2 separate regions of the Homo sapiens genome follow, and region 2 is reported to be linked to region 1. The links are microRNA targets in miRTarBase. Many come from high-throughput screens and were not tested one by one. Region 1 holds a microRNA gene; the other region holds the end of a gene's coding sequence.
Evidence for each region. Region 1 holds the annotated microRNA hsa-miR-107 (AGCAGCAUUGUACAGGGCUAUCA, at 2,767-2,789, opposite strand). A microRNA usually pairs through its seed, bases 2 to 8, with sites in the 3' UTR of a target mRNA and lowers its output. Matches are read on the target gene's strand: a 7mer-m8 pairs with bases 2 to 8, a 7mer-A1 pairs with bases 2 to 7 and ends in A, and an 8mer does both.

Region 2: miRTarBase lists SNX8 as a target of hsa-miR-107. Seed matches in the 3' UTR shown: 7mer-A1 at 4,323-4,329, 7mer-A1 at 3,909-3,915 and 7mer-A1 at 1,727-1,733.

The regions. Positions count from the first base shown.
Region 1 is chr10:89,589,990-89,595,061 of GRCh38, forward strand. It overlaps MIR107 (microRNA 107), which reads right to left and starts at 2,838; the gene lies at 2,758-2,838. It overlaps PANK1 (pantothenate kinase 1), which reads right to left. Exons shown (of 7, transcript NM_148977.3): 4 at 3,824-4,000; 5 at 3,208-3,331.
Region 2 is chr7:2,250,617-2,255,686 of GRCh38, forward strand. It overlaps SNX8 (sorting nexin 8), which reads right to left. Exons shown (of 11, transcript NM_013321.4): 11 at 1,154-4,553. The coding sequence ends at 4,440. It overlaps NUDT1 (nudix hydrolase 1), which reads left to right. Exons shown (of 4, transcript NM_002452.4): 4 at 213-529. The coding sequence ends at 385. Among named protein-coding and RNA genes, the nearest start is that of MIR6836, 4.4 kb to the right of the region's middle. RefSeq lists an enhancer at 1,549-1,898.

The DNA.
Region 1 (5,072 bases):
TCCATGTTTCAAATAAATTCCAGGTGGGTCAAAGATGTTAAAAAAGAAAAAAAAAAAAAGAAAGAAAGAAAAGAAAAAGAGATAGGGAAAAATATGGAAGAATTGGAAAAAAAAGTTGAAGTAGAAAATGCATAATAAAGGAAATCATCTCAAAATAATTGCTACATTTACTTTAAAAAGTTAAATTTATTCGGGGAAAAACATCACCACAAACAAATCCAAACGGGAAGCAATAAATGGAAAATATTATCAGTACATTTCACATAAAATGGATTTGTTAATTAATAAAGAGTTCCATAAATCAACAAGAAAAAAAGTCCAACAACCCAATAGAGTAATGAGTAAATAATATTAATAGTTAATCCCAAAATAAGGTATAATTTTTAACCTATTACATTGAAAAAAATCAAAAAGTTTGATAACTCTGTGGAGAAACTTGTACCGTTATAACCCTGCTTGGTGGGAATGTAAATTAGAACCACCTTTATGGAGGGAACTTTATATCTGTTAATATTACAATCAACATATCCGATGACTCAGCAAGTTCCCTTCTAGGAATTTATCCTATTGATATACTCACATGTAGGCAAAATAATATACATGTGTGTACATATATGTGTGTATACCGTATACAAATACACTGAATTTTTAAATAATAGTAAAAGACTGGAAAAACCTAAATATCATTAGGAAATTGAACAAATCAATAACAGCATATCTATATGTTAAAATGCTATATGGCCATTAAAAATGAAGCAATTTAAAATATACTGATATGATCAATTTCAAGATGCGTTATTACGTCAAAAAGCAAAAGGCAGTATTTTTAGAGATGCTTATTAAAATATATAGGGTAGATTGATATAATATCTGGGATTTGTTTTCTAGTATTTTAGCAAAAAAGAGGGAAGAAGGAGAGAGGACCAGAGGGAGGAGGAAGAAGAAAATATAGAGAAAGCATGTGTTGTGAAGCCTTAATGATTGCAGAATCTGCACTGATGGATTAATGGAGGTTCTTTATACTGTTCTCTCTCCTTTACATATGTTTATGAATTTTCTTAATAAAAAGCTGATAAAGCAAGATATAGAATAGTATATGGAGGGTGAATTGTATAGCATATAATTATATTTCAATAAAGCTATTATTTTGTAAAAAGAATGCTATATAGAGTTTGCTACCTTTGGAAAGATAAATGTATCCTACATTACATACAATATAAACAAAGATATATTGTAATACGTACAATAAAAACAAACAAAAAAACCCTAAAAAAAATGGCAGCCTCTACTGAGGTTAACACTGAGAGACAGAAGTGGAAATGGTGACTCACTTCCTTGTGTATCCTTCTAATGTCTTAGAAGTCTGTATTATGTGTTTGTATTATCTATCCAAAAATTTGAATCAGAAAATTTATAACTGATGGGGAAGCATTTCACAGCATCTCAAGAATCACAGCAAAAATGTTTTAGATTTGGTAAACGTGGTGTCCCTCAATGAAATGGCTGCAATCAAAGGTTCTCAAATCAGTGACTCCAGAGAGCAAAGCAAGGACTGAGGGACTTGGTGGCTGCTCTCATGGGAAATGCAACACTGCCAGTCACTGGTGCGGCCACTGGGAGTCTGCACTGACTGGACACCCTCTGGTAGAGCCTTGGCCCCAAGGCGACTGGTGATTCCCTTCACTCATTCAGCCCCACAGAAACATATAAAATAGTTGCTCAAACCAGTGTATAACATGGCTACATTTTCAAATTGGCACTCGCTCTACTCCACCAATCAACAATATTGAAATTGAAATCAAAAGTGAAAAGTAAAGTCAGTTGCTCTCTCCCAAAGGGATTCTGATGCCTGTGAAAAGACCTGCTGACCTGCTGGCTCACTCCAGCAAAAAGCACAAGAAGCCAGCTCTGCGGAAAGTAGGGGAAAGGGCATCTATTGCTCTGTGGGGCAAGGGTTGTTACCAGCTGACCTTTGAGAGCCCATGAGTACAGCCAACTACACACATATTGGTCTTGGGGCTTGTTTCATTACTTGGAAAAATTCCCTTTAAAGGTTAATGTCAAGAAATAAACTCTGTTACATTGAGTCCCATGACTCAAGTGGACTTTGAAAAAACATCTCTGGAATGCTCTTTTCTCTGAGTATCAGCCTCCCATTTAAACTCCGTCTGAACTGAGGGCTTCCAAAAAGGTATATCGCTGATCTGCAGGCCAGTAACATACTCTGTTCAGTGTTATGCAAGGAGAGTATGTTTTTTGTCAACCCAGAACTCAAAGGCAGGGCTAACACCCATGTATCATAAAGACTGCCTCATACACTAACATTCAACTATTCAACTGAGAGGGGGCTCAAGGGGCTTTCTGAGTACCTATAATGTTCTATTTCTTGATCTGGGTGATGGCTATACAGGGTTGCTTGTGTGTGTAAATTAAACTGTAAGCTTATAATTTGAGCCTTCTTCTGTATGTATGTCACCTCTATTAAAAGCTGTATTTATAAAAACTCCATTACAGATCTACTGTGGTTCTTTAATACTCTCCTATGACCTGTTCCATGCCTCAACTCCTCTTTCCTGTCTTTCTAATATACCTCAGTGTGAAGAGTTCTACTTTATACACCTTGTATTTCAGAAAAGGTTCAATTTTTTCCAAACGAATCTTGCAATGCTTCAAAACATGTTAATACAACTTTGTATGTCACCAGCTCCACCCCTTTTTGTGCCTGGGACTCTGGCTGGCCTTGGCTGTAGCAAGCTCTCTGTGCTTTGATAGCCCTGTACAATGCTGCTTGAACTCCATGCCACAAGGCAACACTGTAAAGAAGCTGAAAGCAGAGAGAATATCGAATATTGCAAGTCGAGCATTTTACCTGCAGTTATGTGCAAGGATGCTCAGACCTTTTCCTCACATTTCAGTGGACACATGGCAATAATGATGGTTAGAGAGACTATGACATGGGTTGTAATTGTATCCTGTTTCCACAGGTGAATGGTTTATCATTCATTATCATCCAGTGCCTTCTTAAAAATAAAGCATATATTCCTCCCCCTCCCCCAACACACACCCCTCCTGTTCTGTAAAGTGTGACTAGAGTAAAGGGAAGCTTTCCTAAGGATATGTAGTTGTGTAAGAGTCAACAGGTGTTGCACTGCCAAGATGATGTATATGAATGACACACAGCTTTCACCGGGTTGAGTAAGGCCTTACCTCATTCAACGCGCACATCCGAGCAATGGAGCCAATGTTGTTGGTGATGGTGACCAATGTGGCCCGGGCGAGGTCTTCCTTGCTGATGGAATCTCGCTTTTCTTTACTCATCATGTTGCCAAAGCTATGTTGGAAATATCAGCGAGAGTGTTCAAAATCGTCCTCAGGCAGGGCCCATCCTTCCACCAAAGTATTGTGGAAGGCTCTACGAGTAACTGTTCAAACTCAAGTGATCCAATTTTGCTACTATGGTTTATAAGCAGACAGAATTATAGTATGCATGGCTGACCGCCCTTTTCTTAATAGGGACAAAGTAGCATGTCCATTAATGGGGGGGGAAAATTAATGCCTCTAGATATCTGGACAAGAATGGAACAGGTGAAACTATTGCAGTTTTCTAGAACCTTCTTTCAAAGTTGCCTTATTTTAAGAACAAGCATCAAGAGCTAAACATCTCAGTGCTTCATCAAGGGCAGGAGATCAAGTCTGAGCTCTGATACAACAGGTATCTGCACCAGGCTGGTGGACTGACATTTTAAAACAACTTAGTGAATGGCCAGGGTGGAGAGGCTGCCTTGTGTTTAATCACTACTGCTCCTAGCTACTTAATCTCTACCTTGATGCTACAGCAGATCCTTGAAGGCCAAATCGTTCATAGTCTCCTCCGTAAATGTCCTTCACCAGTTTATCAACATTGGTGCTGTCGCCTTTAGCTGCCATTTCCAGAGCTTCTTCAAAGGTCTCACAACCAGTCAGCAAGCAACATAGGCCTAGGAATGTTCCACCTCCAAGACTGAAGGAATAATAAGGTTTATTTTTAAATTTTACTTTAAGATATGCCCATCCAAGTCCCCAACTACGTCAAGACTATTAATATGGGTGAATAAAAGCAGACGAACAAAGGGGCACTTGAATTAAAGTGCTAGGGTGCAACAGAGCTTTAGGGTAGACTGGATATGAAAAGAGGGCAGAGACTAAAAATAAACATCAAGGAAAATTTGCCCCTAAATTTGAGAACAAAACCAAAGAAAGACTCTCACTGATTTCTGTTGTGAGACCTTCAACTAGCCACTAACCTGAGTGCTTTGTTCAGCCTTCCCACCTATGAAATGGGGCCAAATCATGATCTCTTCTATTTGGGTGGTCTGAAAGCAGCAAATAACCAAGAAATAACTCCTATTAAAAAACCATATGCAGCTGAATATAAATACCTAGAAAAAGAATTTGTGTGTACATAAAGCATAGTTCAAAGCTATGAAGCCAAACCCTCTGATGACAAAACTGACCCAGGATTGTGCCAGGAGTGGCCTGTCTTAAAAGCTGTGTTTTACCTGACCTTGCTTCTCTAGCAGAGATAATCTCATTTAGCCTCCTTGAATATTTCTAGAAAGGAACCACTGATCTGATACTGAATTTTTTCCTAGTAGACTCTCCAGAAGGTTTTTAGTATATTACTTACCACTCCATAGTAAAAAACAGTAACAAAGGTCATAAAGTGGTTCCAATGGTTGAACTACATTTAAAAAGCTTTGACTTGTTTAGAGGGAAAGTTCCTCTAAAACAGCCTAGACAAAATTAGAAAGTAATTACAGTAGCCAAGAATGAACTCAATTGTGTATTAATATCAAAGTTACCTAATGGAAAGAAAAGCAGATTCAGAGTAAAGTATCGCCAGTGAACTCCCAGCAGGAAAAGGAGTATTGATTCCTAAAGCTAATGGACATAGGTTTTCCTATTTCTTTACCATGTAGAAGAGTAAATGAAGAAGAGCTGCTCACATCCATCTGTTCTGAAGCCCCAAAGAGCTACTAGCTTTGGAAATTCAATTTGTGTTTGAGCACTGGCTTTTACTTCTAAGAATAAAA
Region 2 (5,070 bases), not on the chromosome of region 1:
CCGGCTAATTTTTTTGTATTTTTAGTAGAGACGGGGTTTCACCGTGTTAGCCAGGATGGTCTCGATCTCCTGACCTCGTGATCCTCCCGCCTCGGCCTCCCAAAGTGCTGGGATTACAGGCGTGAGCCACCGCGCCCGGCCAAAAAAAACATGTTTTTTAAGCATGAAGTTTGGGTTGCACCTCAGTGCCTCCTCTTCCCCCATTGGTACAGAAATGCGCCCATGCTGGTTCCAGCTGGATCAGATCCCCTTCAAGGACATGTGGCCCGACGACAGCTACTGGTTTCCACTCCTGCTTCAGAAGAAGAAATTCCACGGGTACTTCAAGTTCCAGGGTCAGGACACCATCCTGGACTACACACTCCGCGAGGTGGACACGGTCTAGCGGGAGCCCAGGGCAGCCCCTGGGCAGGAGACGTGGCTGCTGAACAGCCGCAAACCATCTTCACCTGGGGGCATTGAGTGGCGCAGAGCCGGGTTTCATCTGGAATTAACTGGATGGAAGGGAAAATAAAGCTATCTAGCGGTGGTTTTTTTTTTTTTTTTTTGGAGATGGAGTCTCTCTCTGTTGCCCAGGCTGGAGTGCAATGGCACGATCTCGGCTCACGTCAACCTCCGCCTCCCAGGTTCAAGCGATCCTCCCATCTCAGCCTCCCGAAGAGGTGGGATTACAGGCGCACATTGCCACACCCAACTAATATTTGTCTGTTTAGTAGAGATGGGGTTTCACCATGTTGACCAGGCTGGTCTTGAACTCCTGACCTCAGGTGATCCACCTGCCTCAGCCTCCCAAAGTGCTGGGATTCCAGGCGTGAGCCACTGCACCCGGCCGGTCTCTAACCTTTCAAACGTTCTTCTCCAGACACCAGCACAGCCTGCCAGGTCCCGTCCACAGGAAGCTACCAGATGTGCTGGGCTTCAGCCCGCACTGCTGCACAGAGGTGGGAGAGGATGGAGACTCTGTCCCCGAGGTGGGCAGCTGGCCCAGGGCAGAGACACACATGCTCAGTGCCACAAGCTGGGGATGTGTCCTCTTAAAACCCCCCTGCACAGTGTGGGAAGCTGAGGCTCGGCCAAGGGCTCTGGGCTAAAACCCAGGTTGAACGCCTCATAGGCTAGTCCCCTCCCCTGCCCAACTTTCATACACGTTTAATAACAGTTGTTCACACATGTTTATTGATAAACCGTCCAAAATGTAGGTCATGTGTAAACAATTCCAGTTGTTGGGTATATTGGGTATTGATCCCTGCAGCCTCCTAAAGTGCTTTGGACATGAACTGACCCGCAAAGCAAGGGCAAAGGCCTCAGATGCACAGAGCTGCCCTGACATCCCTTGGCTCGGAGTCCCTGTGCCCCATGTCAGAGCCCTAAACCTGTCTCCCCTGCCTGCACTGTGTCCGGCAGACAAAGGGCAGCTGTCTGCACGGTGACCCCGAGTACCCAGGACACGGACCACGAGGACCCAATGAAAATGTCCCCTTTCACCATGATCGGCAGCCCCCTTCCCACAGCCCCGCCAGCCCACAACCCCCCTCCCACGGCCCCGCCAGCCGTCCTCACAGGGCAGGCGGCATCTGGCATCTCCACCAGCATCACACGCAGCTGTCCCTGCCAGCTAGGCAAGGCCGTAATGACCGGCACAAGCTTGGGCTTGGGCCGTGGGCAGCAGGAGGGCTGGAGAGGCATGGGGGGAACCCCGCTCTCCCTCCGGCATGGGGCCTCCACCTGCAGCAGTAAGCAGCCTCTCAGCCCCTGAGCCTGGGGACCTGCCCGGGCAGCACAGGGCCAGGGCCAAGAAGTATTTGTGAGAAGGAAGGTGGCCTCCGCCACCCCTGCCTAGCAGGCCTCTTTCTGCTGCCCTTTAGAAGGCACTGGGTGGCAGAGGAGGAAGGGGAGGGAGGTGTTCCAAAGCCAGTGCCCACCCCTCCACAGAGCCAACCCCAGGGCACACAGGAAGCAGCCACCACACGTGGGAGACAGGCTGCCCTCGTCACCGCTGCCCTCCAGCCCCCCCTTCACCCTGCCCTCCTGACCCTCCCACCCCTGCCTTCCTGCCCCCCCACCTCCCTCCTGCCTTCCCACCCCTGCCCTCTTGCTCTCCTCACCCCTGCCCTCTTGCTCTCTCCTCACCCCTGCCCTCCTGCTCCCCCTCACCCCTGCCCTCCCTTACCCGTTCTCCTGCTCCCTCCTCACCCCTGCCCTCCTATTCCCCATCACCCCTACTCTCCTGCTCTCCTCACCCCTGCTCTCCTGCTCTCTCACCCCTGCCCCCTTGCTCTCTCACCCCTGCCCTCCTGTCCCAACGCCTGCCCTCCTGCTCCCCCTCATCCCTCTTCTGCTCCCCCTCACCCCTGCCCTCCCTTACCCCTGTTCTCCTGTTCTCCTGACCCCTGCCCTCCTGCTCCCCCAACTCCTGCCCTCCTGCTCCCTCCTCACCCCTGCCCTCCAGCCTTCCACCTCCATCCTCAGCCTCTGGACATGAGGACCCTGAGACCCTGCTCTTGAAGTTTCCAACACAGGGAGATGCCGCCAGGTATGTGGCCTCTCATACACTCACTGACCCCGGAGTCCCTGCCAGGAAAGCTCCTTCAGAAAAGCTCATTCTGAAGTCTTGCTCAATCCTTGGGGGCTGTCAGGAGCGCGTGCCTTGCCTACTCTGGAGACACAGAGGCCCCAGCACCTGATGCCCTCCACGACTCCCCACAGCCTCTATGGTCCTGCAGCTGGACAGGCCCCAGGAAGGTGCGGGGTGGACGGAGAGGCCTTGCAGCCTTCTGCCCACACGGGGTCACGCTTCATGGCTCGGGTGTCATGGTGCCATTCATGGCAACTGAGAACCTGTCTCTGCAGAGGGGCGTCAGAAGGCAGCGCAGCCCAAGACTCGGGTGGACTAGGGACTCACGGGACAGCCCACCCATCGGGCTCCAAAGGGAACGCTGCCCTCTGCTCATCTGGCCAGAAGGAAGCAGCCCACCTCACAGCAGGAAGGCAGCAGCAGAACCCACAGGGCAGGGCAGGCTGGGCCCGAGCCCCACAGCCACCGAGTCAGCACAGCCCACGGGGCCAGAAGGCACGGCCGTTCCCTCTGGCCGGCTCGCAGTGGACGATGGATCACCTGCCTGCGGGGCACACACAGGAGTCCCCTCTCCATCCCACGGCCGTGAGCTGCCCGTAGGTACAGGCGGAAGGGAAGCACCCTCCGTGAGAGGAGTGAACGCCCCAGAGGCCAGTGAGCATCTGCGGAGCGGAGGGACCTCGGAAACCCTGGAGCCCGGCGGGCCTCTTCCAGCACCCCTCCCCGGCCAGGGAGGGGCGTCAGGCTCCGGAGAAGTGCAGGGGTCCACTGGGCTCCCATGTACCTTCCACAAAAGGGGTTCGGGCAGAAGCAGACCCAGGCCTGAGGCGGACAGTCCAGCCCCACAGAGCTCAGGAGAATGGCCTTCTTCATCCAGAGCAGGGAAGGGGCCTGAAAGACCACTGGTTCCCTCTGTGAGCAGGTGGCTGGGCCGGCAAGTGCGTGACGGGAGGCTGGGAGGAGGGCTCTAGGTGCCTCAGAGAAGGAAATCCACTTAAAAGGGGGCTGTCCCTCCTCTAAAGCCTCAGCTGGAATGGAACACGCCCCCCCACGCCCCCACCTGTCCTCTGCCAGCCCATCCAGCCTCAGTGCCACACGGTGCAGACCCCAACACTGGCCACCAGAAATCAAGGGAGTCCAGGGGACGAGAACACAGCTGCTGTAGCGCCCACTCTCAGAGCCCCAGCTCTCCGTCACGCCTTTGTCTTCCAGGCCTGGGCACACACAGGGTCATGGTGTGGACACAGGCACACATGGGGTCATCATATGGGCACAGGGCATGAGGCCACTGGACCCCACAGGCCACTCCCAGACCAGGGCTCCAGGTGTTGACTGCAGCAATTTCCCTAGAAAATTCACCGTGCGTGCCCCACGCCCAATGGCCCTCCCTCCCAGCCTCAGCACCACTGGCTGTCCCCTCGCTGTCCGTGGTCAGTCCCATGCCTGGGCTGCAGGGCAGCCCTGCCCTCTCTCCTCGGCTGACCGAGCACCATGATGCTGCCCCTCCCGACTGTTCCAGCACCTGGAGGCCCTGCCTCCACGCTCCCCCAGGCACAATCTCTGTGAGATGAGAGATCCCTGCCTCCCCGCACAGCTCTGGGTGTCAGGAGGAAACCATTCCAGAGAACCCCACCACCTCTCTCGACCAGGCTAGCAGGCCACAGGGCGAAGGACAGTGTGGCCCAGCTGCCCCCATGGTCCACGGATGCGCCTCCCGACCCGCAGGCGTGAGCTCCTCTGCTCCAGCTGCAGCACGGGGCGTGGCGGGGAGGGGAGCTGCCGTCCAAAGGGAATTACACCGGGACACACCGTTTGGAAAGAGGTTTTAGTGCGGCCGCAGGGAGCACCACCTCAGCCTCAGGCGCTAGTGAGGACACAGGCCGTCCTCCGGCGGGGAGCACGGTGGGGTCAGGGTGCTGTGTGGTCCCGCAAAGAGGCAGCTGAGCTTGGGCCTCAGGTCGTTCCACACCTTGCTCATCTGAAAGGGAAGCGAAGAGAACAAGATCAGCAGGCGGGGCCGGGGCTCCTCCTCACGCTCTGATCCCAGTTCCTTCGCCTGCCAGTGACAGGGAGGGAGGGGCCCTCAGGTGCGCCAGCTCCTCAAACCTCTGGCAGAACCAGTGCTGCCCATCCTGCACAGAGGAAGCCCAAATGAGGAGTGGACCAGCGACATGTGACCTGTGGTCACAGACACCCACGCTTCGATCCCTGCACCCAGGACCAAAGGGCTGCAAATCTGCCTGCCGTGGAATCGTGAGAAACGTTACTATCGCGTCACTGCCAGTACATGCTCTAGCTGCCGTGCGGGCACTGGCCTCATGGAAGCCTTGGCAGGTCAAACACCAAGGCCAGCCTGGGCAACACACGGACACCCTGTCTCCACAGAAAATCAGAAATATGAGTCGGATGTGGTGGCACCTGCCTGTGGTCCCAGCTACTCGGGAGGTTGAGGCTGCAGTGAGCTGTGATTGCACCACTGCACTCCAGCTTGGGTG